2 separate regions of the Homo sapiens genome follow, and region 2 is linked to region 1. Evidence: fine-mapped expression QTL. A gene starts in region 1. The other region holds a variant in brackets. All regions are shown on one strand. Distances are between the middles of the regions. Region 1 holds the start of PEMT (phosphatidylethanolamine N-methyltransferase). Region 2 has its middle 39 kb from the start of SMCR2.

Evidence for each region.
Region 2: its variant is fine-mapped to the expression of PEMT in whole blood (TOPMed, PIP above 0.99). The same link has a PIP of 0.9 or more in blood mononuclear cells and monocytes.

The regions. Positions count from the first base shown.
Region 1 is chr17:17,583,641-17,598,972 of GRCh38, reverse strand. It overlaps PEMT (phosphatidylethanolamine N-methyltransferase), which reads left to right and starts at 7,265. Exons shown (of 7, transcript NM_148172.3): 1 at 7,265-7,442. The coding sequence starts at 7,347. It also overlaps the pseudogene EEF1A1P43. RefSeq lists enhancers at 7,124-7,513, 7,079-7,820.
Region 2 is chr17:17,630,946-17,646,277 of GRCh38, reverse strand. No RefSeq gene overlaps it. Among named protein-coding and RNA genes, the nearest start is that of SMCR2, 39 kb to the left of the region's middle. The variant G/A (reference allele first, on the strand shown) is at 6,492.

The DNA.
Region 1 (15,332 bases):
CTGCAATCTCTGCCTCCTGGGTTCAAGTGATTCTCCTGCCTCAGCCTCCCAAGTAGCTGGGATTACAGGCATGCACCATCATACCCCACTAATTTTTGTATTTTTAGTAGAGATGGGGTTTCTCCATGTTGGCCAGGCTAGTCTCGAACTCCTGACCTCAGGTGATCCGCCCGCCTCAGCCTCCCAAAGTGCTACGATTACAGGCATAAGCCACCGTGCCCAGCCTTTTTGCCTCCTTTTTTTTTTTTTTTTTTTTTTGAGGCGGAGTCTTGATCTGTCACCAGTCTGGAGTGCAGTGGCGCAATCTCAGCTGCAACCTCTGCCTCCCAGGCTCAAGTGATTCTCCTGCCTCAGCCTCCCAAGTAGCTGGGACTACAGGTGCATGCCACCACACCCAGCTAATTTTTTTGTATTTTTAGTAGAGATGGGTTTCATCATGTTGGCCAGGATGGTCTCCATCTCCTGACCTCGTGATTCGCCCACCTCAGCCTCCCAAAGTGCTGGGATTACAGGTGAGCCACTGCGCCCGGCCACCTTCATTTTTGAAGTATATTTTCATGGGACTTAAATTCAATTCTGACCTCCTTCATTCAGCAAATATTCACCCAGTGCCATCTGGGTGCCAGGTGTGTACTGGCTGCTGGCAGGGGATGTGGAGGTGGGCAGGGCAGACGATGAGGGGACCATTCTTGATCTCCAAGAAGAGAAGGGAAGAGTGTGCCTGGCAGAGTGAACAGGAGGTGCAAAGGCCCTGTGGCTGGAAGGAACCTCAAAGAGGCCAGTGTGGCTGGAGTACAGAGGGCAAGAAGAGCTGGGAAGGTGGATTGGGCCCGGACCATCCAGGACCTCAGGGCCATTGTAAGGAAGAATGTTTTGCCTTCATCAGACCACAGGTTTCAACTCTGACACTCAGCTGTGTGACTGTGGGCCAGTACCTTCCACATGAGTCAATTACCTCATCTGGAAAGTCAGAATAACATTCCCTACCTCACAGGGCTCTTGTGAGGCTTAAAGAAAATGTGTGCTTCAAGTGCTGAGCTCAGGGCCTGCAGCCAGCAAGAGCTCAGACAGATTAGCTATTGTTTCCATGTTTAGGTTTTTTTTTTGTTTTTTTGTTTGTTTTGTTTTGTTTTGTTTTCCGAGACAGGGTCTCACTCTGCTGCCCAGGCTGGAGTGTAGTGAGCCATCATGGCTCACTGCTGCCTCAACTTCCCGGGCTCAAGTGATCCTCCCACCTCAGCCTCTTGAGTAGCTGGGACTACAGGTGCACGCCACCATGCCTGGCTAATTTTTTTTTTTTTTCGTAGAGACAGGACTTCACCATGTTTCCCAGGCTGGTCTTGAACTACTAAGCTCAAGCAATCCACCCATCTTGGCCTCCCAAAATGTTGGGATTATAGGCGTGAGCCACCACACCCAGCCAGGAACTTTAATCTTTTTTTTTTTTTGAGACAGAGTTTCGCTTTTATTGCTCAGGCTGGAGTGCAATGGTATGGTCTCAGCTCACCGCAACCTTCGCCTCCCAGGTTCAAGTGATTCTCCCACCTCAGCCTCCCTTAGTAGCTGGGATTACAGGTGCCCCCCATCAAATCTGGCTAATTTTGTATTTTTAGTAGAGACGGAGTTTCACCATGTTGGCCAGGCTGGTCTCAAACTCCTGACCTTAGGTGATCCACCCGTCTTGGCCTCCCAAAGTGCTGGGATTACAGGCGTGAGCCACCACAACCGGCCGAACTTCAATCTTAATAGGTGGGTTTGGTCTCTTATTTAGGTAACAGACTTGGTCACCCTCCCCATTCCACAGACACGGTCACTGAGGCCCAGAAAAGTGGCTTTCCCAAGATCACCCAACTCAGAGTGGCAGAGCTACAGTATTCATTCACTCATTGTATATTCAATGCCTGCTTTGTGCCAGAGCTAGGTGCCCAGGACAGGGCTGTGTACAAACAGATAGAAATCCCTGCCCTCAGGACTGGGCATGGTGGCTCATGCCTGTAATCCCAGCACTTTGGGAGGCCAAGGCGGGCGGATCACCTGAAGTCAGGAGTTCGAGACCAGCCTGGCCAACATGGCAAAACCTCATCTCTACTAAAAGTACAAAAAAATTAGCAGGGCATGGTGGTGTGTACGTGTAATCCCAGCTACTTGGGAGGCTGAGGCAGGAGAATCACTTGAACCCGGGGTGGAGGGGAGGTTGCAGTGAGCTGAGATCATGCCACTGCACTCCAGCCTGGGTGACAGAGTGAGATTCCATCTCAAAAAAAAGACATCCCTGCCCTTAGCCGGGCATGGTGGCATGCACTTGTAGTCTCAGCTATTCCGGAGACTGAGTCAGGAGGATCGCTTGGGCCCAGGATTTTAAACCCAGGGGTCTCTTAAAAAAAAAAAAAAAAGCCAGGGGTGGTGGCTTATGCCTGTAATCCCAGCACTTTGGGAGGCTGAGGCAGGTGGATCACCTGATGTCAGGAGTTTGAGACCAGCCTGGCCAATATAGTGAAACCCTGTCTCTACTAAAAAATAGAAAAATTAGCTGGGTGTGGTGGTGCGCACCTGTAGTCCCAGCTACTCCAGAGGCTGAGGCAGGACAATTGCTGGAACCCGGGAGGCAGAGGTTGCAGTGAGCCGAGATCACGTCACTGCACTCTAGCCTGGGCGACAGAGCAAGACTCCGTCTCAAAAAACAAACAAACAAAAAATCTCTGCCCTGGTGAAGTTCCCCTTATAGGGGATAGGGGATGGACAGGGAATGACACTATACAAAATAAATAAGTGCACTAAATACATTTGTTAAATGATATGGCCAATGGAGAGAAATAAAGTTGGGAGAGGCCCATGGCGAGCATGGGGAAGTCAGCATGTTCAACAGGGTGGAGAGGTGGAACTTGAGCAGAACCCAGAGGAGGTGAGGAGGGTACTGGGAGGAAATGCGGGGAAGAGCAACCCAGGCGGAGGACATAGCACATGAAAATGCCCTGTGGTGGGTGTATACCTGGGGTGTTTAGGACCTCTGGAGGCCAGCTGGAAGGCAGGGGTTTGTGCTCTGTGGACACTGTGGACACTGAGGGGCAGTGAGGCCCTGCCAGCACCAACATCCTTGCTGGTGTTTCCCAGGCTGGCCTAGGCTGTGGACAACTGGGTTCAGGTAACTTCACTCCCGTGCCCTCTTCCCAGCAAGTAGTAGGTCCTTGGGGAAGGGGCTTCTTCCAAAGCTCAGGGCAGATGGGAGTGGGGAGGGAACTCGTGATCAGGGCACACATCTCCAGATGACCTCTCCCCTGCCCCAGTTCCCACCCTGGCTACCCTCTTGTTCCTGGAGCCACCAGGGGTAGAATGAGGGCAATCAGGCCTGAGTCTATGAAGTGGGTGCTGGGCATTGCGGCCACAGCCCCTCACCACCTTCCTGGTTTTAAAGCACTCCCAGTGACAATATGGTTTCTGATAACCTGCAGTACCTGCTGTCTGGGGAGCAGCTCTGGCCACCCATCCTGGCCCCTGCCCACCCATCTCCTCCCAGGAACTCTGGCAGGTCCCTGAGCTGTCAGCCAGCTCTCCTGGCCCCCAGTGGTGTCCTAAATCCCAGCAGCATGTCCATGAGTGTGACCTTAACCACCAGATCTCAATTATATAGAAAGGAGAGAAACATTTTTTTCTTTCTTTTTTTTTGGAGACAGGGTCTCACTCTCGTCACTTAGGCTGGAGTACAGTGGCACAATCACAGCTCCCTGAAGTCTCTCTCTCCTGGGCTCAAGTGATCCTGCCGCTTTAGTTTCCCGAGTAGCTGGGAGTACAGGCACGTGCACCACACCCGGCTAATTTTTTTTTGGTATTTTTTTTTGTAGAGATGGGGTTTTGCCATGTTGCCCAGGCTTGTCTCGAATTCCTGGGCTCATGCAATCTGCCTGCCTTGGCCTCCCAGAGTGCTGAGATTACAGGCATGAACCACTGCGCCTGGCCTGGACATTTTCTTAGAACCCACTGTATGCCAGGCACTTTTGTACGAGTTATTACCTCTAATCCTCACAACAGCCTCACTCGAGATATTATACTCAAGAGATATTCTATGATATAAATATTATTATGTTTTATGAACAGAAAATAGATTCAGAGTAGGGAAAGGTTTAGGTTTTACCCAAAGGCACCCAATAAACACATGTTAATTTTAGCACTAAAACCCCATTTTAATGATTGCTGGGAGTTTCTGCAGCCTGATTCATAATTCAGGAGCCAGGGAGGTGGGGTTAGAGAAAAGAGAGGCCATCAGGAGGTTTGCCCTGGGAGCTGTTCCATGATAAATGGTTTCCTATATCTGAAGAGCTCAATCAAGGGGCAAAGAGAGATAACCCTGAAGGTAGAAAGGAACTTTTGTTTGTTAAAGCTTCAGGAAGGGTGACTTTGGGTTAATGGGTATCATGACTTTGGGTTAATGGACCCCTGTCCATCAGTGGAGCGGGCGACCTCAAGAGGTGGGGAACCTCTCATCACTGGCGGCACGTAAGCAGAACCAACTTTTCCATTTGCCCAAGATGCCACAGAAGGAATGTTTCAGTGAGGGAGGTTGGCCTGGATAATTTCTCTACAAGCTCTCAGACTTGGGAACTTTTGAAAGGCTCAGGCAAGTACTTGTGCCCCAAAGTATCTTTGGCAGGGTTTTTTATTTTTATTTTTTTAGATGGAATCTCTGTCGCCCAGGCTGGAGTGCAGTGGTGCAATCTCGGCTCACTGCAACCTCCACCTCCCAGGTTCAAGTGATTCTCCTGCCTCAGCCTCCTTAGTAGCTAGGATCACAGGTGTGCACCACCATGCCTGGCTAATTTTTGTATTTTTAGTAGAGACGGGGTTTCACCATGCTGGCCAGGCTGGTCTCGAACTCCTGACCTCGTGATCTGCCCGCCTTGGCCTCCCAAAGTGCTGGGATTCCAGGCGTGAGCCACCATGCCCAGCCTGGCCCAGGCTGGAGTGCAGTGGCGCGATCTCGGCTCACTGCAGCCTCCACCTCCTGGGTTCAAGCAATTCTCCTGACTCAGCCTCCTGAGTAGCTGGGATTACAAGTGTGCACCACCATGCCTAGCTAATTTTTGTATTTTTAGTGGAGACGGGGTTTCACTGTGTTGGTCAGGCTGGTCTTGAACTCCTGACCTCATGATCCGCCTGCCTCGGCCTCCCAAAGTGCTGGGATTCCAGGTGTGAGCCAGGCAGGAGGTTTTTATCTGACTTGTTTCAAGCTGCAAGTCTGTCTCCTGGGTGGGGTGTTTGCTTTTCACAGAGGAAGGGTGGCCCAGGTTGGGTAGGCTGGAGTAGAGGATCGGACTGCATCAGTTCTGGTGTGACCTCTTACGGTTGCCTTACTTTGTTCTCAGATAAAGCAAACGCACAAAAATTTGTTTTCTGGGCTTAACAAAACAGGAGTGACCAGTTAGGTCAGAAGACTGGAACATCAGTGAAGTGGATGTGTGGTAGGCGGAGGGGAAAGACTTGCTAGAAGCCCTCCCGCTGCGGGGGGCTCCTTCAGAAATGGCTCTGCCTCTAGCAGCTCTGCCTGGACACTGAGCAGGGAAAGGGTCCCGACACTCATTAGTAACAGTGGTAAGTCAGAGAACCAGCCCTGAGCCTGTGTCCCCAGCCCTGCCGGGGGCCAATGCCTACTGAGCACTTCCCACAGGCCAGTTCCTGGGTGATGAGTTTTACCAACATGTATTTCCCTTTTACTTTTGAGGAAAATGAAGGTGGGCTCAGTCACAGAGATAGTGCATGCTCCAAAGCCAGTGTCTTTCCTGTCTCCTCGGTTGGCCTGCCCCATCCTAGCGATGTTGTGAAGATTGGGACTACCTCTAAAGCAGCACACAGTGGCTGCTCAGTAAATGCTCAACACTGGTAGGTGCTGTGGGCCAAGGTGGAGAGAAACGGGCCATCTGGAGCAGGAAGCAGCTGACTGCAGAAGTCCTGTCTGGGCCCCCAGCAGTCTGGGTGACTGAGCAAATCTTGGAACCTCTCAGTCTATTTCCCCATATTACATAACACCTGGCTACAAAAGGGCTTTTTTCTTTTTTGAGAGGGAGTCTCGCTCTGTCGCGCAGGCTGGCATGCAATGGCACCATCTCCGCTCACTGCAACCTCCACCTCCTGGGTTCAAGCGATTCTCCTGCCTCAGCCTCCTGAGTAGCTGGGATTACAGGTGCGCGCACCACACCCGGCTATTTTTTGTATTTTTAATAGAGACGGGGTTTCACCGTGTTAGTCACGCTGGTCTCGAACTGCCGACCTCTGGTGATCCGCCCACCTCGGCCTCCCAAAGTGCTGGGATTACAGGCATGAGCCACCACACCCGGCCTACAAAAGGGGTTCTTCTGGGACCCGATCGTCTAAACTCTTCTCCATTTGACCCCCTCCATCACTACTCCACAGCTCACCGGTCTTTTCTCTGTTCCTTAGGTGCCCGTCCTGTCTCCAGGCCTTTGTACATACCATTCGTCTTGCCTTGTTTGCCCTGCCCTCACACTTGGCACATCTGGCACCTCCCCTGCACATTCTAAGACAGCATCCTTCCGTACCATTTGACCCACCCCGTTTTTTCCACCACAGTACTCATCCATATTATAACCCTTTATTCACATTTTGTCTTTTATCTCAGTCAGGAGGAAGCGAGGGCGGGGGACTCTGTGTTGTTCCCTACCGTACCCTCAGCGCACAGTCTGGTTCAGAAAATACTCGAGAGTGAATGAGAGAATGAATGAAGGAAAAAATGAGTGGAGGAGGGGTCTTTGGCCGAGCTAAAGAGCCTGGGCGCCGCGGGGGCGGGAAGCTCTAGGCAGTGCTCGTCGCGCACCGCCCCCAGAGTAAAGCGAATTTCAGAAGAGGGCGTGGGGCCCTGGGCGTGTGGGGCCCTGGGCGTGTGTGACCCGGGCCAAGTCCAAGTCCGCAGGAGGCTGCGCGGGAAGCTGCTTATAGCTACGACCCGCGGCCCCCGGCCTCTAGCCCCACCGCCGCCAGGCAAGGGCAGGGACGCCAGGTCAGTTACAGGCTCGGGTGCGGCAGCCGGCGACCAAAGGCACTGGGCGGGAGGCCGGATCCAAGGGGATACTGCTACGTAGCTGCAGCGGAACCGGCAGGCTCTGCGGCGAAACACACTGGGACTTGTAGTTCTCGGCTCCTCTAGACGCTGTCGCGAGCCCCCAGATAAAGAGGCACTTCGCGGTGACGGGGAACTACATTTCCCAGAAGGCCGGAATATGTTGGGGGTCACCGGGAAAGCGCCCCGACTGGCGGCACTTACCCGGCTCTATAGGTCCGGTTCCGGGGGCGCGTGGCTGCAGCGGGGCCCGCGTGGTGCCTCCTGAGGCGGCCCCCGGATGAAGAGATCTGGGAACCCGGGAGCCGAGGTAACGAACAGCTCGGTGGCAGGGCCTGACTGCTGCGGAGGCCTCGGCAATATTGATTTTAGACAGGTACTGACCGCACCGGACCGCCGCGGAAACTGGGAGAGGGATCTGCAAGGCCCGAGGGGCGTGAAGGCTTGCGGCGCCTCAAACGCTGCGGGGCGGGGCCGCCAGTTCCCAGGCAATGGGGGCGTGGCGTGGCGGGGGTGGGGGAGCCGCGTGCGGGAGCGCCGGCTGGTGTCTGTGTGTGTGCGTGTGCGCGCGCGTGTAAACCTCAGATTGCGTGTGTCAGAGACGGGGGCGTTCCTGAGCTCGTCTGATTGTGTGCCTGTGTGTGGCCCTGAGATTGTGTGAGACTCAGAGGTTGTCCGTGTTAGTCTTTGGGATTGTGTCTCACTGAAATTATGTGATGCTCTGAGAGTGTGCCGGAGAGTGAGTGTGAGTGTGTATGACCGAGGCTGTGTGTGACTGAGCGTGGGCGAGGGTGAAGGAGGCCGATTATATGTTTGGGAGTGTGTTGTGTGGCCCCTGCTCCCGTCCATCCCCCAGGGTCAGGAGGCCAGCTTTTGCCCAGAGGCAAGAGAGTGGTGGGGACCCTGCCTGTCTCCCAGCCGGCCCTGGGCAGGCTGCAGACCACCACCCAGCCGTTTCGGGGCCATAATGGGTGCGACCGGCCCCAGAAGCTGGGGGCCTGGCTTGCCTGCTGAGGCTGCCCTCTGCAGAGTCCTAGGCCAGAGAGTGCCTGTCCTGGCATCTCCCCAGGCTCCCAATTCCAATGGATTCCAATTTCCAACCTCTCTTGCATTCTCCCTTCTATCAAAGCTTCCTCTTAGATGCTCCATTTACCTTTTTCATCACCCACTCTTCATGAAGCCTGTAAGGCACATCTCTGCCCCAAGCAGCTTCTAATCCAGTTCTTTCGCTCCCTTCATTCCTTACTCACATGTGCATTTATTCACTCACTGATCCAGCCAGTATTGATTCAGGGCCGGCTGAGGGCCTCGTGTCACTCAGAAGTTTAAGGGCACTTCTGTCACTGAGCTTTCATTCTAGGGAGGGAGATTGTAGGCCTGGAAAGCCAGAGAGTTCTCTGAAGGAGCTAATACCAGTTAGTGTTTTGAAGAGTAGCTGATGGGAAGGCGGGATTGAAATCCCAAGAGAGCCTGTTGCCGTATCTGCGAGGGAGGGACCTGGGATCTGAGAGCCGAAAGGTCAGTCAGTGGGGCAAGATTCCCCAGAGGAGGGAGGCAGTTGCGAAGCCCTCCAGGAGGCACAGGAGGAGATGGGCCGCTGGCCCTGAGGGAGCGCAGGACCGTTGGCCAGATGGGTGCTCAGCAGAGGACAGGAAGAAGACTATTACTTTAGTAAACTGTCCATTGAATTACAACATGCAGTCAGATGAGTGATGGGTCCTACCCCTACAGCTCCTGCATTTTCACCAGGTGAACCTGTATCTGTTAATCCTCAGATCAAGATGGGGGGTCATGATCACCTCCAGGGGCTGCCCTCAGAAGCCACCGTGTAGAAGGGTGGGTGGGGGAGCCATGTAGAAGGGGGGGCAGAATGCAAGGGGGCAGTGTCCCTTTGCAGACCCATCTAGGGGCCTGCCCCAGGGCCTGCCAGTGGGCAGGGGAGACTAACCGGGTGTGTGAGGGGTGGGCTTCTCTGCTCTTTCTCCTTTCTCCCCAGGGCTGTGCAGCTGGAGAGAGCTGGGGCTGGGGTTCGGGTCAGGGTGACCCTTGTTGACTAACATTCTGCTTTTCTTCTGCTGTCCTTGTTGGTGCAGTTAAGCTTCCTGTTGCCAAGGGATTTTTCTTAAAGAAAGAAAGAAAGAAACATACAACATACAACATTACATATTTGCTTATGTGGTAGCTCTACTCCCTCCTCAATCAAAATCTCCGGTTTTAAAATATGTCAGTCCCTGGCCTGGGAGAGTTGCAAGGTTTTTGTTCACCCCATGGGCGTCTGAGCTGCAGGATCTCCGGTGCTAGCCCTGTGCTGCTGTGCTGTCCAGTAGAAACATCGTGTGCCACATGCATAATTTAAACCTTTCTAGTAGCCATGTTAAATTAGTGAGAAGAAATGGAAAATAGCAAAGAAATAGAAAAATAATTTTGACAATATATTTTATTGTTACCAAAATATATATCAGACATATTTTGTCCTGTGGCATTCCAAGCTTGTGGCACTGCCTGTGACCAGTGGCTGCCATGTCATACCAAACAGTGCTGCTCTGGGTACCATGCCCTCCACCAGCTCTTTTCTGGGCCTGCTTCAGCAGGTACAGAATCTTGCTTTTGTTTTTAAAAAAAAAAAAAAAAAAATCAGCTGTTGGGGCTGGGCACGGTGGCTCACGCCTGTAATCCCAGCACTCTGGGAGGCCAAAGCAGGTGGATCACCTGAGGTCGGGAGTTTGAGACCAGCCTGACCAACATGGAGAAATCCCATCTCTACTAAAAATATAAAAAGTTAGCCAGGCGTGGCGGCACATGCCTGTAATCCCAGCTACTCGGGAGGCTGAGGCAGGAGAATCACTTGAACCCCGTAGGTGGAGGTTGCAGTGAGCTGATATCACGCCATTGCACTCCAGCCTGGGCTAGAAGAGCGAAACTCTGTCTCAAAACAAAAACAAACAACCCAAAGAATCAGCCATTGGGCTGAGGAGTTAGGGTGAGGAGTGTGCCCGCTGCAGCCCCACTGACTAAGGCCCTTTTGCTCCTTGTTGCCCTCCCTGTCAGGATTCTGGAGCCTTGCTCCTCAGCTGGGCAGCTGCCTGAAGGCAGTGGGGTGGCAGATGGATGAGAGCAGGGTCTGCATCTTGCTGTCCACAGGCCGGGGCACCTCCAGGATTCAGAAGATGACTCCAGTAGGGCCTAGGGGTGCGGGCACCCAGGCTGGCAGAGCACACTGAGGTCCTCAGAGCAAGGGCACATGCCCAGGTCTCAGGTCCCTTTTCCATAGCGAATCACCTGCTCACCAGAGCGGGTGAGTGATGATGTCTCCAGCTTGGTGTTGGTGTCAAGAAGAATGGGGACAGTGAGGGGGTTATGGTGAAGACCAGAATGAGATGAGGGGTGTAAAGCTTTATGAAGTATCGAGTGCAGCCCACCTAAGGGTGGTCCTCAAGAAGGCAAAGCCCTTGTATTCAGAAGGCTGAGAGACCTGGGGCAGGGGACACAGGTCCCTGTGTGTAATATGGGCACCCGAGTAAGACCCTGGAGGCAAAGCTCCGATGGCCGATGCGGGGTATCTTGACTGCCTTTCAGGGAAAAATGTTTGCCTTTATCCAAAATCGTTTCCAAAAATCTTTTGATTGTATTACTTTAGTTGAAATAAACATTAGGCCGTTATATTAGATGAGTTACTCTGTGGTGTTTTCAAGGCCGTACATTTTGTCTTCAGTAATTTTGGCATCAGCCAAGACAGAGCAGGGTTGAGGCTTTCCGTGGCTGCTCATCAAAACAATGACAGAAACTCTTGGAGCTTGTTTCCCCTGCCTCTGTTGAGATGACACTGTTTTTCCTCATTAAGCTGTAAATATGAATTCCATTGATGTTTTGAATGTTGAACTAGCTCTGGATTCCTGGGGTGATCTCTGGCTGGTCCTAACATATTATCCTTTGTATATATTGCTGGATTTGATTTGCTCTAATTTTTGGGGGGATCTTCTTTCTTTATCTGGTTTCATTTGATTTAATTAATTTATTTATTTTAAGACAGAGTCTCGCTCTGTTGCTCAGGCATGTACTCAGGAATGCAGTGGCGTGATACCAGCTCATTGCAACCTCCGCCTCCCGAGTTCAAGCAATTCCCCCACCTCAGGCTCCCGAGTAGCTGGGATTACAGGTGCACCTACCACCACACCTGGTTTTTGTTTTGTTTTGTTTTGTTTTTTGTATTTTTAGTAGCGACAGGGTTGTTGGCCAGGCTGGTCTCAAACTCCTGACCTTAAGTGATCCACCCACCTTGGCCTCCCAAAATGCTGGGATTACAGGCGGTGAGCCACTGCACCCGGCCTGGTTTTAGTGTTAGGGTAATACAGTGAGTTGGGAAGTATTGCCTCCCTCTTCCATATTCTGGAAGAGATTGTGTGGAATTGGAATTATTTTTTCCTTAAATGTTAGGCAGAATTCATCCAGGAAACCATCTGGGCTCAAGGCTTTCTTTTTTTAGGTTTTTAAGCCATAAATTCAAATCCTTTAAAAGATAAAGGATTATTTCTTGAATGAATTTTGACAGTTGTGTCTTGCAAGGATCGGTTCATTTCATCTAAGTTACTTAATTTGTGTTATTCATAGTATTCCCTTATTATTACTTTAATGTTTGTGAGGTCAGTAGAGAAGTCCCCCCTTTTATTTCTGATATTGATATTTTGTGTCTTTTCTCTTTTTTTCTTGGTCAGGCTGGCTGGAGGTTTCTCAGTTTTATTGGGAAAATAAATTTTCCCCAAAGAACCAGCTTTGGGTGTAATTTTTTTTTCTCTATTGTTTTCCTGTTTTCAATTTGATTGATTTTTGCTTATCTTTAATTTTTTGTCCTGCCTCCTTTGGGTTTAACTCATTCCTCTTTCTCTAATTTCTTTCTTTCTTTTTTTGAGACGGAGTCTTCCTCTGTTGCCCAGGCTGGAATGCAGTGGTGCAATCTCGGCTCACTGCAACCTCCGTCTCCCGGGTTCAAGCAATTCTCCTGCCTCAGCCTCCCAAGTAGCTAGGATTACAGGCGCCCTCCACCACGCCTGGTTAATTTTTGTATATTTAGTAGAGATGGGGTTTCACCATGTTGGCCGGGCTGGTCTTGAACTCCTGACCTCAAGTAATCTGCCTGCTTCAGCCTCCCAAAGTACTGGGATTATAGGCATGAGCCACTGCGCCCAGCCACTCTTTCTGTAATTTCTTAAGGGCAAAGCTTATATTCCTGACCTGGGACTTTTCTTCCTTACTAATAGAAGCCCTGCCTTAGCCGCATCCCACAGGGTTTCATGTGTTCTATTCTCATTTTCATTCAGTTCAAAATGTTTCTAGATTTCCCAAGACTTCCCATTTGGCCCTCGCGTGCATTCTTTCCACGATCGCTTTCTGTGACTGATTTCGAGTTTAATTCTGTGGTGGTTTGGGAGCATACTGTGTATGCTTTCTATTCGTTTAAATTTAAGGTTTGTTTGGTGGCCCCAAGTGTGATCTGTTTTGGTGACACCAGAGACTGCAGGCTGTTCCCAAGGCTGCCATGTGCTGTGGTCAGGTCCAGCCACTGGATGGCGCTGCTCAGGTCAGCTGCGTCCTCCCGATTTTCCACCTGCGTTTTTTTTTTTCTTTCTTTCTTTCTTTCTTTCTTTCTTTCTTTCTTTCTTTCTTTCTTTCTTTCTTTCTTTCTTTCTTTCTTTTTCTTTCTTTCTTTCTTTCCTTCCTTCTTTTTCTTTTTCTTTCTTTCTTTTTCTCTTTCTTTTTCTTTCTTTCTTTCTCATTAGATTTTTTTTAATGGGTCTCAAAAATCTGTGACAATTTTTTTTTTTTTTTTGAGACGGAGTCTCGCTCTGTCGCCCAGGCTGAAGTGCAGTGGCGCCATCTTGGGTCACTGCAAGCTCCACCTCCCGGGTTCACGCCATTCTCCTGCTTCAGCCTCCCGAGTAGCTGGGACTACAGGCGCCTGCCACCACGCCCAGCTAATTTTTTTAATTTTTTAGTAGAGACGGGGTTTCACCGTGTTAGCCAGGATGATCTCGATCTCCTGACTTCATGATACGCCCGCCTCAGCCTCTCAAAGTGCTGGGATTACAGGCATGACTCACCGCGCCCGGCCCGACAAATTTTTGGTCAAGTTGTTTCCATTCAAAAGTACTGATTTTAAAAACTAATAACTTAAAACTGCCACAGGCAAAAAAGAAAACCAAAGTGGTCCACAAAACATTTTCCTTTCCTTCTAAAGGTTTTATGATGCATTGTTATCATTAACCAGTCTTTTACTACTAAATTTAAATGGTCAATTGAAACAAACAGTTCTGAGACGTTCTTCACCACTGATTAAGAGCGGGGTGGCAGGTATTAGGGATAATATTCATTTAGCCTTCTGAGCTTTCTGGGCAGACTTGGTGACCTTGCCAGCTCCAGCAGCCTTCTTGTCCACTGCTTTGATTCTCTCAGTCACTGAGAGGACCATGGAGGGCCCTAACAAGAACTGTGGATTTGTCTTTTCCACCCTTTAGTTCTGTCAGCTTTTGCTTCATACCTCACCTCACTTCTTTTTGTTGTTGTTGTTTGTTTTTGAGATGGATTCTCGCTCTGTCGCCCAGGCTGGAGTGCAGTGGCATGACCTCAGCTCACTGCAACCTCCGCCTCCCAGGTTCATGCGATTCTCCTGCCTCAGCCTCCAGAGTAGCTGGGATTACAGGCGCCTGCCACCACGCCCGGCTAATTTTTGTATGTTTAGTGGAGACGGGGTTTCACCATATCGGCTAGGCTAGTCTTGAACTCCTGACCTCAGGTGATCCACCTGTCTTGGCCTCCCAAAGTGCTGGGATTACAGGCGTGAGCCACCGCGCCTGGCCACTCACCTCAGTTCTTAATCTGAAGAGTGGGCATGCCTCGCAGGGTTGTCACCAGGACTCGATGACACAGTTGTCACAGCCAGCGTCTGTCTAGCCATGCCCCCCGCCAGGCACTGCGCTGAGTGCTTTCCTTGCACTTTCTCATTTAATCCTCCTGGCGTCCCATGGCACCTCTACCATTCCCACCTCCCAGGCTAGGAAGCGGTGCTCAGCGAGGGGAGATGGCTGCCCGCCGTGGCACGGGCGTCCTTGTCTCATCAGCACTCTGTTCTGCCTCCTGCAAGTCCCTTGCCAGAGCTTGGCAGCTGGTTCACTTCCGAGTGAAGGTTGGCTGGCTTATTGTTACTATTGTCTTCAAAATACAATGTGTATTTACACAGAGACACAGTAGCACCTAGCAGGTTCTGTCCTGGGCCCTGGAAGGTAAAGGTAAAGAAAAGGAAGATGGCTGGGCTTGGTGGCTCACACTTGTAGTTTCAGTACTTTGGGAGGAGGCCGAGGTGGGAGACTCACTTGAGCCCAGGAGTTCCAGACCAAACTGGGCAATGTGGTGAGACTCCATGTCTACAAAATAAAAAAAAATTAGCCAGGTTTGGGCCGGGTGCGGTGGCTCACGCCTGTAATCCCTCGGCACTTTGGGAGGCCGAGGCAGGCGGATCATGAGGTCAGGAGATCGAGACCATCCTGGCTAACACGGTGAAACCCTGTCTCTACTAAAAATACAAAAAAATAGCTGGGCATGGTGGCGGGCGCCTGTAGTCCCAGCTACTTAGGAGGCTGAGGCAGGAGAATGGCGTGAACCCGGGAGGTGGAGCTTGCAGTGAGCAGAGATCGCGCCACTGTACTCCAGCCTGGGTGATAGAGTGAGACTCCATCTCAAAAAAAAAGGAAAGAAAAAAGAAAATGGGGTGAAGCTCACAACCAGCAGAGGAGTGAGAAGAGGCAGCCCAGCGTGGAGGCGAGCAGGGCCTTGAGAAGCACCGTCTTACCCGTGGGCCCCACACCCACCCCTGCTGGAGCACGTGAGCTGTCAGTGCCTTTTGAGTTTGGTGCAGGTCACACTTGTTAATTGAAGAATGAATGACATTTCACCCTCCTGAAAGGAGTTATGGATCTAGGGAACTGGAGCAGCTGCCTGCCATTTCGTTTTACTGTGGGATCTAGAGACCACAGTCGCATTGTGACATTCTAACTTCCACCCCTCCTGCCATGAGGTGGTTTTTGCTGCCCAGGGCTTGCCTGACCTCAGATTCCAGCATCGGGGTCTTCCCAGGAGGGTCCCTCCAGAGAGTGAATGGTGAGAGAGGGACCTGTATTAGTTGACATTAAGCAGACAGAGTAGAGGGGCCGCCAGCCTCGGCCCTGAGTGGGCCCTGTACTTTTACATCTGTTCTTGCTTCTGTGCAGAAGGTAAC
Region 2 (15,332 bases), 47 kb before region 1:
GTTGTGCAACTGCCACTATCTAGTTCCAGAACCTTTTCATCACCCCAGAAGGAAACCTGAACCTCCCCATTTCCCCTGCCCAGCCCCTGGCAACCATGCATGTGCTCTCTGTCTTTGTGGGTTTGCCCATCCTGGACATTCCATATGAATGGACTCATATGTGCTGTTGTGTCTGCTGCTTTTGCTTAGGCAAATGTTTTTGAGATTCATCCATGTTGTAGCATGGATCAGGACATCATTCCTTTTTTGTTTGTTTTTGAGATGGAGTTTTGCTCTTGTTGCCCAGGCTAGAGTGCAGTGATGCGATCTTGGCTCACTGCAACCTCTGCCTCTTGGGTTCAAGTGATTCTCGTGCCTCAGCCTCCCAAGTAGCTGGGATTACAGATGCCACCACCATGCCTGGCTAATTTTTTGTATTTTTAGTAGAGACGGGGTTTCACCATGTTGGCCAGGCTGATCTCGAACTCCTGACAGCTCAGGTGATCCACCAGCCTCGGCCTCCTAAAGTGCTGGGATTACAAGCGTGAGCCACCAGGCCCGACCAACCTTGTTCCTTTTTTAAAAAACTGGCCAGGCGTGGTGGCTCATACCTGTAATCCCGGCCCTTTGGGATGTGAGGTGGGTGGATCACCTGAGGTCAGGAGTTCGAGACCAGCCTGGCCAACATGGTGAAACCCCCTCCCTACTAAAAATACAAAAAAATTAGCCAGGCCTGGTGGCACATGGCTGTAGTCCCAGCTACTTGGCTGGCTGAGGCAGGAGAACTGCTTGAATCTGGGAGGCGGAGGTTGCAGTGAGCTGAGATGGCATCATTGCACTCCAGCCTGGGCAACAAGAGCAAAACTCCATCTCAAAAATAAATAAATAAATAAGTAAAATAAAATGAACTTTATTCCTTTTCAAGGCTCAATAATATTCCACTGTATGGACATACCACATTCTATCTGCCTGTTCATCCGTTGATAGACACCTGGGTCGTTTCCATCTTTGGCTGTTAGGAATAATACTGCTATGGACACTCATGTACAAGTCTTCACGTGGATGTGTCCATTCTCCTGAGTATACACCTAGGAGTGGGATTGCTGGGTCATGTGGTCAGCCTATGTTTAGCTTTTTGAGGGATCAACACACTATCTTCCATAGTGGCTGCTATTTTACACATCCACCAGCAGCGCACGGGGGTTCTAGGTCCCCACATCTCTTCAACACATATTTCCCATTTGTTGGTAGTGACCATCAAGTGGTGTCTCACTGTGGCAGTTAATGCTTCCTTGTCTCTCAAAACTTCATGCCAGGGCCACCTCCTCCAGGGAGATTTCCCTGACACTCTGTTCTGGTTAGGGCACCCCCGGATTCCCACAGGCTCTGAGGCGTTGACCTGTCCCAGGAATAAGCATTCTTCTGCGGCTGTCTGCATACACACGTCCTCCATAAGATGCTGAGCTCACTGAGGGCACGGGGGCCCTGGGGCTGAGCTCAGCGTGAGCTGAATCAGCGATTGCATCCCTGGGCAGTGTTCATCAGCTGCCGTTCTGGTCAGACCTTCATTTGGGGTTTGGTGCCTGGGCACATCTGGGTTGGTGATTTTTGGTGGTGGGTGTTGTCTTGGAAGCCCACCTTGCTCCCATGTGTCCCAAAGGCCCCCACTTCCTCCCTGCCCCACATCCACTTCCCAGTGAGGCCTGAGCGGGGTGTGTGCATGTGCATCTTTGTCCCCAGGCCTACCCGAGCGAGGCTGGGCTTTCCAATGCTTACCCTTGGTCAGGGGCCCATCGTCAGGCCACTGGGGTTATGTTGGGGAGTGGGGTGGGCTTGGGATTGGGGGCTTGATCCTCCTGTCTTGAGTTCAGAGACCTGGGTCTGTGGCCTGCCTGGTTCTGAGTGACCAGGGACAAGTCACCTCCCTCCCCTGGCTCAGCCTTCTCACCTGTAAAGGGATCCACGGCCCTGTCTGTGCAGGTGCAGTGGGTGCCTGTGTTAGTCTGCCAGGGCTGCTGTAACAAAGCATCACAGACTGGGGGCCTCAACAGAACGTCACTCTCTCATGGTCTGGAGGCCGTGAGGCCAAGATCAAGGTGTTGGCAAGGAAGGGCCCTTCCTAGGAGTGTGCGGGAAGGCTCTATTCCAGGCCTCTCTCCTCAGCGTATCAGTGCCGTCTTCTCCCTGTGTCTCTTCACCTCATCAGAATTCCCTCTATGTGTGTGTGTGTCCAAATTTCCCCTTTTGATAAGGACATGGCTCGTACTGGATTAGGACCCATCCTACTGACATCATTTTAACTTAATGACCTTTGTAAAGACCCTATCACCAAATAAGGTTACAGTTGGCTCTCTGGTATCCAGGGATCAAACCAACCATGGATTGAAAATATTCGAGAAAAAAAAATTAATTTAAAATAACAACACAACAACAAAAATACAAATAAAATATAGTATACCAACTATTTATGTAGTATTTACATTGTATTAGACATTATAAGTAATCTAGAGATGATTTAAAGTACATGGGAGGATGCACTTAGGTTATATGCAAATACTATGTCATTTTATTTATTTATTTATTTATTTTCTTTGAGATGGCGCTTTGCTTTTGTTGCCCAGGCTGGAGTGCAATGGTGCGATCTTGGCTCACTGCAACTGCTGCCTCCCAGGTTCAAGCATTTCTCCTGCCTCAGCCTCCCGAGTAGCTGGGATTACAGGTGTGTGCCACTACACCCGGCTAATTTCTGTATTTTTAGTAGAGACGGGGTTTCACCATGTTGACCAGGCTGGCCTCAAAGTCCTGGCCTTAGGTGATCCACCCACCTCGGCCTCCCAAAGTGCTGGGATTACAGGCGTGAGCCACTGCGCCTGGCCACTATGCCATTTTATACACGGGACTTGAGCATCCTTGGATTTTTGGTATCTACTGTGAGGGTCCTGGAACAAATCCCTCGTGGATATCAAGGGACAACTACACTCTTGAGGTTCTGGGGGTTAGGACTTCAACATTAGAATTTTGGGGGATACCCAAGCATGGTAGCTCATACCTGAATTCTCAGTGTTTTGGGTGGCTGAGGCAGCAGGATCTCTTGATCCCAGGAATTTGAGACCAGCCTGGGCAATAAAGCAAGACCTTGTCTTTACCAAAAATAATTTTAAAAATTAGGTGGACACGGTGGTGCACGTCTGTAGACCCAGCTACTTGGGAGGCTGAGGAATGTCGCTTGAGCCCAGGAGTTCAAGGCTGCAGTGAGCTATGATCATGTCATTACACTCCAGCCTGGATAACAGAGGAAGACTCTGTCTCTTAAAAAAAAAAAAAGAAAAGAAAAAAGAAAAGAAAAAAGAATTTTAGGGGGATATCTCCCAAATTAACTATTTGCCCTTATCCCAGGCTCTGCTTCTGGAGGAGCCCAGTGGAGCCACTGCCCTACCTTGCTCTTCATCCCGGTGAGGATCAAGCCAGCAGATGCTGGCCACTGCTCCACGGCCATGGACTCAATACCCAACACAACAGACAAATCCCTGTCCTGTGGAGCTCATGGCCAGGTTGGGGGTGGGGGTGGGGCAGGCTGCAAACGTGCCATTGGTTTGGCTGAGGGTGGGCCTGGGGAGGCTACTTGAGCCCAGGGTGGTCAGAGAAGGCCTTACCAAGGAGGTAATATTTGAGCTGAGACCTGAATGGTGAGAAGATTCCAGCCATGGCAGGTGTCGGGAGAAGAGCACTTCCACTATCGGATACAGCAAAATGAAGCTGTCTCTGCCCCTCCCATCCTACTTCCCAACCACAAGCACTCAAGCCAGGAAGACCTGAGGAGCATGACTTCAGGGAGAAGAGCCAGATTCCTGTCCTGAGAGCAGTGATGGAGGCTGCTTAGTCTGGAGGAGAAAGTGGAGCTCCCTGGATCCTCCAAAGGGCTGTCAGAGGGCAGAAAGGTTGATGAGCTCTTCGTGGAAGTAGAGCAAGAGCCAAGAGTAGATGTTACACGGAGATAGCAAGAACTTTGTGATGAAGACACATGGAGAGTGAGACCCCCACCCTGGACGTATTTAAGCCCAAGCTGGATGATCTCTTGGCAGGATACCATAGAGGGGACCCAGAAAGTCTGGGTTCGCTGTCAGAAGCACCCAGACAGGGCCAGCCCTCTGATTTTCAGCTGTGGTAACAGTGGGCCTCCTCTCCTGCCCCTCTTATGAAGTCAAAGAAAACAACTCTGCCCTTGGCCTAGAATCACAACTGCCTGGGGACAGTTTCCCAAGGGCACATGGTAATTCCTGTACTGTCCTTGTCATCCGCCAGGTGGCACTGTTTGCCTGGTGTTGGGGCAGAATTGAACTCCCTTAAGCATTTTTAAACGACTGGTGAACTGGGGAGATACCAGTGTTGCAAGGACCCAGGAATGGCCAGAAGGTGCACTGCCCGAGTGTGGAAAATCCTTACAGACCCCGAGACATGCGCTAAGATGGTAGTGGGTATATGTGGCCTCATGAGAAGGGTCAGTGCAGACCAGAGGCCCCTCTCACCTCTGCCACCTTCCAGCTGTGTGACATTGAGCAAACCACCTCTCAGAGTCTCGGTTTTCTCCTCCATAAATCAAAGACTGGCCCCACCTTGAGATTTTGCCGAGATGATTAAAAACAATCCACGTGCCTGGCCCGGAGCAGGTCGCCAATAAAACATGGCAGCAGCCATCAGTGGTGTAGGAACTGTGGTGTAGGAACTAAGCTCTCAACGTCTAAATGGCCCCCCAAAGTCTCCAAGAGCCCCTTCTCTTATCTGAGGAAAGACAGGTGGACGTTCCTGCCCCTCTTAGTCCAATGATGGGAACTTTGATTGCCCTTGAGGGCCCTGGTGGCTCTCCAGGCTAGTGAGGCCTCTGCAAAGCATGGCTTTCTTCCTGTTGGCGACTTCCATTCAAGCAGATGCTCTCCAGACCCCAACTCCATAGAGAATCACCCTTTTGGAAAAAATGGTGCTCCTCTCCTCTTCATGGTTTGCCTTTTTTTTTTTTTTTTTTTTTGAGACAGGGTCCCGCTCTGTCACCCAGGATGGAGTGCAGTGGTGCGATCTCAGCTCACTGAGCTCACTCAGCTCACTCTGCCTCCTGGGTTCGAGTGATCCTCATGCCTCAGCCATTCACCTCCACGCCTGGCTAATTTTTTGTATTTTCAGTAGAGATGGGGTTTTGGGGTTTCGCCATGTTGGCGAGGCTGGTCTCGAACTCCTGAGCTCAAGTGATCTGTCTGCCTCAGCCTTCCAAAGTGCTGGGATTGCAGGGATGAGCCACCTCACCCGGCCTTATGGTTTGCTTTTCTTATTTGGTTTCTTGATAACAATTAATAGAGGTTCTTGAATCCCTCAAAAGTGTTCACTGTGGAATGTGAAGCTTTCTGTAGTTTCATTCCTGGTGCTAAGTGCTGGTAGAAATTTGTGTAGATTCCCTTGGGACTTTTTTTTGTTTGTTTTTTTGTTTTTTTGTTTTTGTTTTTTGAGATGGAGTCTCGCTCCGTCGCCCAGGCTGGAGTGCCGTGGTGCAATCTCGGCTCACTGCAAGCTCTGCCTCCTGAGTTCACGCCATTCTCCTGCCTCAGCCTCCCGAGTAACTGGGACTACAGGCACCCGCCACCACGCCTGGCTAACTTTTTGTATTTTTAGTAGAGACGGGGTTTCACCGTGTTAGCCAGGATGGTCTTGCTCTCCTGACCTCGTTATCTGCCTGCCTTGGCCTCCCAAAGTGCTGGGATTACAGGCATGAGCCACTGCACCCGGCCCCCTTGGGACTTTTTCTAAGCATATGCCTAAGCCCACATTCATGTAAAAGTTATTATTACTTTTGAAAAATGAAAAAATACTGGTTCCTCCATTCATTCATTCGTTGTGCATTCAACCTGTGTTTGGTGCTGTGAGCCCTAGGGTGCAGTGAAAAACAAGGCTCTTAAAACCCTGCCCTCAGTTGGCATTCCAGCTGGGAATGACATACACTCCATAAGCAGGAGCAGAGGAGGGCGCTGGTAAATTGGAGTAAAGGGTTAGCGAGTGTGTTTGTTTCCTGCTGTAATGAATTGCCACAAGTGAGAGAAATTTGCTCTCTCACAGTTCTGGAGGATAGAAGCCTGAAATCAGTGTCACTGTGCAGAAATCAAGGTGTCTGCAGGGCCGTGCTCCCTCTGCAGGGCTCTAGGGCAGACTTGTTCCTCGCCTCCTCCAGTTTCTGGCAGCTGCCGGCCTTCCTTGGCTTGTGGCCACATCACTGCCGTCTTCCAGGCCAGCATCTTTGGAGGTCTCTCCACTCCATCTGCACCCTGTCTTCTCTTCTGTGTGTGGTCATCACTCTGCCTCCTCATTCTTTTTTTTTTTTTTTTTTTGAGATGGAGTTCCACTCTTGTCACCCAGGCTGGAGTGCAGTGGTGCAATCTCAGCTCACTGCAACTTCTGCTTCCTGTGTTCAAGCGATTCTCCTGCCTCACCCTCCCCAGTGGCTGGGACCACAGGCACGTGCCACCACACCC[G/A]GCTAATTTTTTTTTTTTTTTTTTGAGATGAAGTCTCACTCTGTTGCCCAGGCTGGAGTGCAGTGGCGCCATCTCAGCTCACTGCAACCTCTGCCACTTGAGTTCAAGCAATTCTCCTGCCTCAGCCTCCCGAGTAGCTGGGACTACAGGTGTGTACCACCACGCCTGGCTAATTTTTGTATTTTTAGTAGAGATGGGGTTTCACCATATTGGCCAGGCTGGTCTCAAGCTCCTGACCTTGTGATCCACCCGCCTTGGCCTCCCAAAGTGCTGGGATTACAGGCGTGAGCCACCGTGCCCGGCCAATTTTTTGCATTTTTAGTAGAGACAGGGTTTCATCATGTTGGCCAGGCTGGTCTTGAACTCCTGACCTCAGGTGATCCTCCCACCTCAGCCTCCCAAAGTGCTGGGATTACAGGCGTGAGCCACCACCCATGGCCTGCTTCCCCATTCTTATAAAGACACTAGTGATGGCATTCAGGGCCCACCCCGATACCCCAGGACAATCTCCTCATCTCAGAATCCTCAGTCACACCTGATAGACCCACCCCGCTTTTTGCCATGTAAGAAAACTGTCTCAGTTTTTTGTTTCTATAAAACAAACTGGGTCATTTATAAACAATAGAGGTTTATATGCTTATGGTTCTGGAGGCTAGGGAGTCCAAGCGCATCACACTGGCATCTGGTGTGGGACTTCTCATGGCATCATTCCATGGCACAGGGCTTCACATGGGAGAGAGCAGAAGCTGTCAGCTCAGGTCTTTCGTCCTCTCCTTTTTTAAACAATTTGTTGGAGACAGGACTCACTCCATTGCTCAGGCTGGAGGGCAGCAATGTGATCACGGCTCACTGTAGCCTCCACCTCCCCAGGCTCAGGGAATCCTCTCACCTCATGCCTCCCGAGTAGCTGGGACTGCAGTACGTGTGGACGAAATCACCACACCCAGCTAATTTTTGTATTTTTTATAGAGATGAAGTTTCACTGCATTGCCCAGGCTGGTCTTAAAAACCTGGGCTCAAGCTATCCACCCACTCAGTCTCCCAAAGTGCTGGGATTACAGGCATGAGCCACCTCACCCAGCCTCTTCCTCTTCTTAGAAAGTCATCAGTCCCTTCCTGGGGGCCCTGCCCCAATGACCTCATCTAATCCCAACTACCTCCCAAAGGCACCACCTCCAATCAACATATGAATTTGGGGATTAAGTCTCCCACACATGAAATTTAGGAGACACATTCAAAACACAGTAGTCTGCCCTGGGCCCCAAAATGCATGTCCTCACATGCAAAATGTACTCATTCCATCCCCAAAGCCCCAAAGTCTTAACCTGCTCCAGCATCAACTCAAAAGTCTGCAGTCCAGAGTCTCATCTGAATGAGATATGGGTGAGACTGAAGGTACGATTCATCCTGCGATGAATTCCTTCCAGCTGTGACCCTGTGAGATCAAACAAGTTATCTCCTCCCAAAATACAGTGGTGGCACAGGCATTGGATAGACATTCCCATTCCAAAAAGCAGAAGTAGGCATGATGAAAGGGGCAGATGGTCCCAAAGAAGCCCAAACACAACAGGGTAGATATTGTATCTTTTTTGTTGTTGTCTGTCACCAGGCTAGAGTGCAGTGACATGATCTTGGCTCACTGCAACCTCCGCCTCCCGGGTTCAAGTGATTCTCCTGCCTCAGCCTCCCGAGTAGCTGGGACTACAGGTGTGCACCACCACGCCCAGCTAATTTTTGTATTTTTAGTAGAGACGGGGTTTCACCATGTTGGCCAGGATGGTCTCGATCTCTTGACCTTGTGATCTGCCAGCCTCGGCCTCCCCAAGTGCTGGGATTATAGGAGTGAGCCACCAAGCCTGGGCTAAACATCACACCTTAAGACTCCAGAATAATCCTTCACTCTGTGTTCCGCCTCCTGGACATACTGGGGTGGGGGGTGGGCCCCAAAGGCCTGGGGCAGCCTGGCTTCCATGGCTTTGCTGGGCCCAGCCCACACTTGAGCTCTCCCTGGCTGGCGTTGCACACTGGTAGCTGTACAGTTCTCGGGTCTTGGTGATGGTCTCACTGCCTCAGCTCCACCAGGCATTGCCTTCATGAGAGGCTTTTTGTGGTGTCTCCACCCCTGCAACAAATCCTGCTTGGGCTACAAGGCTGATACAGCCTTTGAACTAGGCAGAGGCTGCCATACTCACAGCTCTTGCTTTCTGTGAGCCTGTAGAATTAGCACCATGCAGATGCCACCAAGGCTATGGGCTTATATCTTCCAGAGCAGTGGGTCCAGCCACACCTGGGGCTGCTTGTGCCACAGCTGGGACAGTGGAGGAAACACTACATGAGAGCACGGACACTCTAGGGGGCCCTGGACAGCAAATCCATGAAGGGTGCCTGGCCTGTCCCCAAAACCATTCTTCCTTCCTAGGCCTCTGGGTCTGTGATGGGAGGGCCAGCTTGGAAGATCTTTGAAATGCTTCGGGGTCTTTCTTCCATTCTCTCATTTATTTATTTATTTATTTATTTATTTATTTTTTTGAGACAGAGTCTCACTCTTGTCGCCCAGGCCCGAGTGCAGTGGCATGATCTCAGCTCACTGCAACTTCCACCTCCCAGGTTCGAGCAATTCTCCTGCTTCAGCCTCCTGAGTAGCTAGGATTACAGGCGCACGCCACCATGTCTGGCTAATTTTTGTATTTTTAGTAAAGATGGGGTTTCACCATGTTGGCCAGGCTGGTCTCGAACTCCTGACCTCGTGATCCGCCCACGTCAGCCTCCCAAAGTGCTGGGATTACAGGCATGAACCACCGCACGCGACCTTTCTTCTATTCTCTTGCCGATCTTTCTCCCTGTACTAATTTCCTTAGCGAACAGTTGCTGGGCCACCCTTTTGGTTCCCTCTCCTGAACATGCCTCTTCTCTCTTTATGTGGCCAGGCTGAGAATTTTCCAAGACTTTCTGCTTTGCTTCCCTTTTGATTATAAATTTCATCTTTAAGTCATTTTCCCTCTTGCAGCTTAATGTAAGTAGCTGTGCAGCAGCCGGAACACTTTGCAGCTTAGATAGTTCTTTTGCCAGATATCCTAATGTATTGCTCTCAAATTCTGCATTCCATAGAGTCCCTGGCACAGACACAATCCAGCCAAGTTCTTGGCCAGTTTATAACAAGGACGGGCTTTACTCCAGTTTCCAATATCTTGTTCCTCCGTTCCATCTGAGACTTCATCAGAGTGGCCTTTATTCTCCACATTTCTATCTGCATTCTGGTCATGACCACTTAAGTAATCTCGCAGAGGTTCCAGACTTCCCCTAGTCTTCTTGTTTTCGAAGACCTCACCAGAATTGCCCTTAATGCTCTTTTTACAGCAATACAGGCTTTTCTAGCCTGCTTCTCCAAATTCTTCCAGCCCATTGGGTAATGCTACTCATTTCAAAGCTGCTTCTGTGTTTTTGGGTATTTGTTACTAGCAACACTTCTCAGTACCAATTTTCTGTCTAGTGTATTCTCTGTTGTTATAACAGAATATCACAGACTGGTAGTTTATAAGCAATAGAAGTTTATTTAGCTCATGGTTCTATAGGCTGGGGAGTCCAAGAGCATGGTGCCAACATCTGGTGAGGGCCTTCCTACAGCGTCAGGAAACGGCACAGTGTGTCACATGGCGAGAGGGCAAGAGTGTGCCAGCTCAAGTCTCTCTTCCTCTTCTTATAAAGCCACAAGTCCCATCATGGGGCCCCACCCTGACGCCCTCATCTAATCCTAATGACCTCCCAATGGCCCCACCTCCAATCAACATATGAATTTGGGGATTTTTTAAATCATTTTTTAGGGGGGCTAGAGATGGGGGGGTCTCACTATGTTGCCCAGGCTGGTCTTGAACTCTTGACCTCAAGCCATTCTCCCACCTCAGCCTCTCAAAGTGCTGGGATTATAGGCATAAGCCACCACACCCAGCTGGAATTAAGTATTTTTTTTTTTTTTTTTTGAGACACAGTCTCACTCTGTCGCCCAGGCTGGAGTGCAGTGGTACAAGCTCCGCCTCCTGGGCTCACGCCATTCTCCTGCCTCAGCCTCAGCCTTCTGAGTAGTTGGGACTACAGGCGCCCGCCACCACGCCCAGCTAATTTTTTGTATTTTTAGTAGAGACAGAGTTTCACTATGTTAGCCAGGATGGTCTTGATTTCCTGACCTCGTGATCCGCCTGCCTCGGCCTCCCACGATTAAGTTTTAACACGTGAAATCTGGGGAACATATTCAAACCATAGCAGAAACCTTCATGAGTTCCAGGATTAGGATATGAACATCTTTTGGGGAGCATTTTTCAGAGAGCATCCAAGGCAGGTGGAAATGCTATTTCAGGGACAGGGGCGCAGATACAGAAGCCTGGAGGAGGTGATGGAATGGCCGGGCAGGCCCCAGCCCCGTGCCTGACACATGGTGGGTGCTCACAGGCAAATGACATCACTGGTAAGTGAATGCATGAGCTGTTGGCAGATGGCTCTCTCTCTCAGCATGTGCCTGGCCAGGCGCAGTGGCTCATGCCTGTAGTTGCAGCACTTTGGGAGGCCAAGGTGGGAGGATCACTTGAGTTCAGGAGTTGAAACCAGCCTGGGCAAACTGGTAAAACCCTGTTTTTACAAAAAAATATAAAAAATTAGCCGGGCATGGTGGTGCCTGCCTGTAGTCCAAGCTACTCCGGAGGCTGAGGTGGAAGGATCACTTTGAGCCTGGGAAGCGGAGGTTGCAGTGAGCCAAGATTGTGCCACTGCACTCCAGCCTGGACAACAGAGTGAGATGCCGTCTCAAAAAAAAAAAAAAAGTGTGTGTGCCTCAGCTGGTGATCCAATACTGGCCAACGTCCCCAACAGCATGGCAAAGACAGTGGGGATGTGGTGCTGCTTTTGTTTTCCCAGCTGGAGCTGAGCATCTGATTGGGACCATCCCCAGCTCTGGGCAGACGCTAATGGTTGCTGGTGGCCTCACCGATCCTACACTGTCATCGGTGAATAAGGGTGGCCTTCAGCAAGTGTTCAGTGGCCAGGGCAGGAACATGAGACGTAGTATTGGCAGGGTCTGGTTTCTTACCTAGATCCCTGCCTCGTACTTGCTGTGTGACACCAGCAAAGACTGTTCTTTCTCTGGTCACTGAGGGCCAACCACCTCCGAGGCCAGGGGCTGGTCCTCGGGAGGATCTCAGCCTCTGCCTCCAGGCCTTTGCATCTGCTGTTCCCCTGCCTGACTTCTCTTCCCCGACAACTTTGCAAAGCGGGTGTCCTTGCCTCTAGATCTCAGTGTGACTGTCACCTCCTTAGAAAGGCCTTCCAAGGCCACCCTCCCTACAGTTGCTGCCTGGTATCTTTTTGTCCCACATTGCAGCTTAAAACACAAGGGCTCAGCTAGACGCAGTGGCTCACTCCTGTAATTTCAGCACTTTGGGAGGCTGAGGTAGGTAGATCACCTGAGGTCAGGGGTTTGATATCAGCCTGACCAACATGGTGAAACCCTCTCTCTACTAAACACAAAACATTAGCTGGGCATGGTGGTCCATGCCTGTAATCCCAGCTACTTAGGAGGCTGAGGCAGGAGAATCGCTTGAACCCGGGAGGTGGAGGTTGTAGTGAGCCGAGATTAACCCACTACACTCCAGCCTGGGCAATAAGAGCGAAACTCCATCTCAAACAAACAAACAAACAAACAAACAAACAAACCCAGAAGGGCTCGTTGCTCTCTGAGTGGTTTTGACTGTGTCTTGGCCCACATGTGGACCCTGCTCGCCTCATCCCCTGGGGAGTGCCTGGTGGCCGACACACAGTAGGCATTCAGACAGTATGTGTGGGGTCAGTGAAAGGAAGGAAGGGAAGATGGAGGAAGAGGGAGCAGGAGCGGGCAGGAATAGAGAGGGTTATACACACAGATGGGGGGGACAGAGCCAGGGCGCAGAATAGAAGATGTCTAAAAACACGCAGGGCAACTCAGGGCACCTGGGTTGAGATCTGAGGGGGACGTGCCCCTCGCAGGGAGGTCTGGCCTGTACTCGGGACCTACCGGGGATTGCTGAGGAAGTGAAGGGGCAGCCACTTCATCACTGGGCCCATCTTGGGGCTGGGACTGTGCCTGGGCATTGGGTCAGCACGGACAGAGGGGATGGTGGTCGTTTGGCTGAGGGCTCCTGGTGTGGAACTGACTGCCGGGGGCGGTCTGCAGGGGAAGATCCCAGGCAAGCAGAAGGTACAAGTCCAGGCTGGCCTGCTGGGGCATGTGGGCATGGCTACCCCATCAGTGAAATAGTCCATTCCTGTGGCTTCCTCCTAGGCTGTAAAGACATCCCCTACTGTGCTCCTTTCAGGCACTTTGAAGCTTGGCCCCATGACTACTGGGGTAGGGGAGAAACAGGCCTCTTCCCCTGCCAGAAGAGCCCTTCCTCCTCTGTTAGGGCCCTTCAGGGACCCAGGCAGGTCAAAGCGATGACGGGTCATAGGAAACTCGAAGGGGCCTGGCTGGAGCACCTCGTGCCAAAGAGCTGTCCTTTCACTTCTTCCTTGGGTGTTGGTGCAGGGGCTAAGTCCTGGCATGTTGCTATCACAGTGAGGCGTGAAGCTGGCTGGGCTTCTGGGTCGGGTGGGGACTTGGAGAACTTTTCTGTCTAGCTAAAGGATTGTAAATGCACCAATCAGCGCTCTGTGCCTAGCTAAAGGTTTGTAAACACACCAATCGGCACTCTGTAAAAACACACCAATGAGTGCTCTGTGTCTAGCTAACCAGGTGGGGACTTGGAGAACTTTCCTGTCTAAAGGATTGTAAATGTACCAATCAGTGCTCTGTGTCTAGCTAAAGGTTTGTAAACACACCAATCAGCACTCTGTAAAAATGCACCAATCAGCACACTGTAAAAATGCACTAATCAGCACTCTGTAAAATGGACCAATCAGCACTCTGTAAAATGGACCAATCAGCGTGCTGTAAAATGGACCAATCAGCAGGATGTGGGTGGGGCCAAATAAGGGAATAAAAGCTGGCCACCCGAGCCAGCAACGAAGATGCTCCCTGGTTCTGTTTTTTTGCTTTTGATGATGAATTTTGCTGCTGCTCAGTGTTTAGGTCCGCACTACCTTTTTGAGCTGTAACACTCACGACAAAGGTCTGTGGTTTCATTCCTGAAGCCAACAAGACCATGAACCCACTGCGAGGTAGGAACAACTCCGGACGTGCCATTTTTAAGAGCTGTAACACTCCAGTGGCAAAACTCTGCAGCTTCACTTCTGAAACCAGCAAGATCAGGAACCCACGGGGAGGAACAAAGAACTCCAGACGTGCCATCTTTAAGAGCTGTAACACTTAACTGCAAGGGTCTGCAGCTTCCCTCCTGAAGCCAGGGAGACCATGAATGCACGGGGAGGAACAAACAACACTGCACGTGCCACCTTTAAGCCATAACACCCACTGAGAAGGTCTGCGGCTTCACTCCTGAAGTCAGCAAGACCACGAACCCAGCAGCAGGCAGCAATTCTGGACACATCCAAACATCTGGAAGAACAAACTCTGGACACACCATTTTTAAGAACTGTGATACTCATGGGGAGGGTCCGTGGCTTCATTCTTGAAATCAGCAAGACCAAGAACCCACCGGAAGGAACCAATTCCAGACCCAACAGGTCCATGTGAGACAGTGCTCGTTTTATTTAATTGTAATGTGTTCTCCTGTATGTACTTCCTCCAGCCCTCTTCTCCTCTTCCTCCCCTGCCAAGGTTGCCGCCTTCTTTTTTCCTGAGATGGAGTCTTGCTGTGTCGCCCAGGCTGGAGTGTAGTGGTGAAATCTCAGATCACTGCAACCTCTGCTTCCCGAGTTCAAGTGATGCTCCTGCCTCAGCCTTCCCAGTAGCTGAGATTACAGGCATGCACCACCACACCTGGCAAAATTTTTTTTTTTAAGCTGGAGTCTTGCTCTGTCCTCCAGGCTGGAGTGCAGTGGCGTGACGTCGGCTCACTGCAAACTCCACCTCCCAGGTTCATGCCATTCTCATGCGTCAGACTCCTGAGTAGCTGGGACTACAGGTGCCCGCCACCACACCCAGCTAATTTTTTGTATTTTTAGTAGAGATGAGGTTTCTCCACGTTGATCAGGCTGGTCCGGAACTCCCAACCTCAGGTGATCTGCCTGCCTTTTGGCCTCCCAAAGTGCTGGGATTACAGGTGTGAGCCACCGCCCCCTGTTGTAATTTGTGTAGTTTTAGTAGAGACGGGGGTCTCACTGTGTTGGCCAGGCTGGTCTTGAACTTGTGACCTTGTGATCCACTTGTCTTGGTCTCCCAAAGTGCTGAGATAAAGGTGTGAGCCACTGTACCCAGCCCAAGGCTGCCTCTTAATGAGGCTGATATTTGTTCTTTAGCTGTGTGTCGAGCCTTACACAAGCACACATGTGGCTGCGTGGCTGTGGGCCAGTGTTATTCTGCAGCTCATGCTGTTTCTCATGACTCTGAGCATCATGATCTATCCCTGGAGCTGTGAGCACCCCGAATTCACTGCTTCTCACTGGCCTATGGAACCCCAAAAGGGGCACCCATCACATTCTCATTTACGTGGTGATGGGAATCTAGGTGGGCTCACAGCCTAGGGGGAAGGATGGTTTGGCTAAAGCCTGGTGATGGCTTACACGGTGGAACAGAAGGTGGACCCCGCCTCACATGATTGCGAATGTGGGTACTCAACCTGTATCAAGAGTAAAAAGGCAACCCACAGAATGGGAGAACATGTCTGTAAATTATGTCTTATAAGGGTCAGATATCCAGAATATATAAAGAACTCTTACAACTCAACAAAACGATAAACAACCCAATTCAAAAAGGGTCAA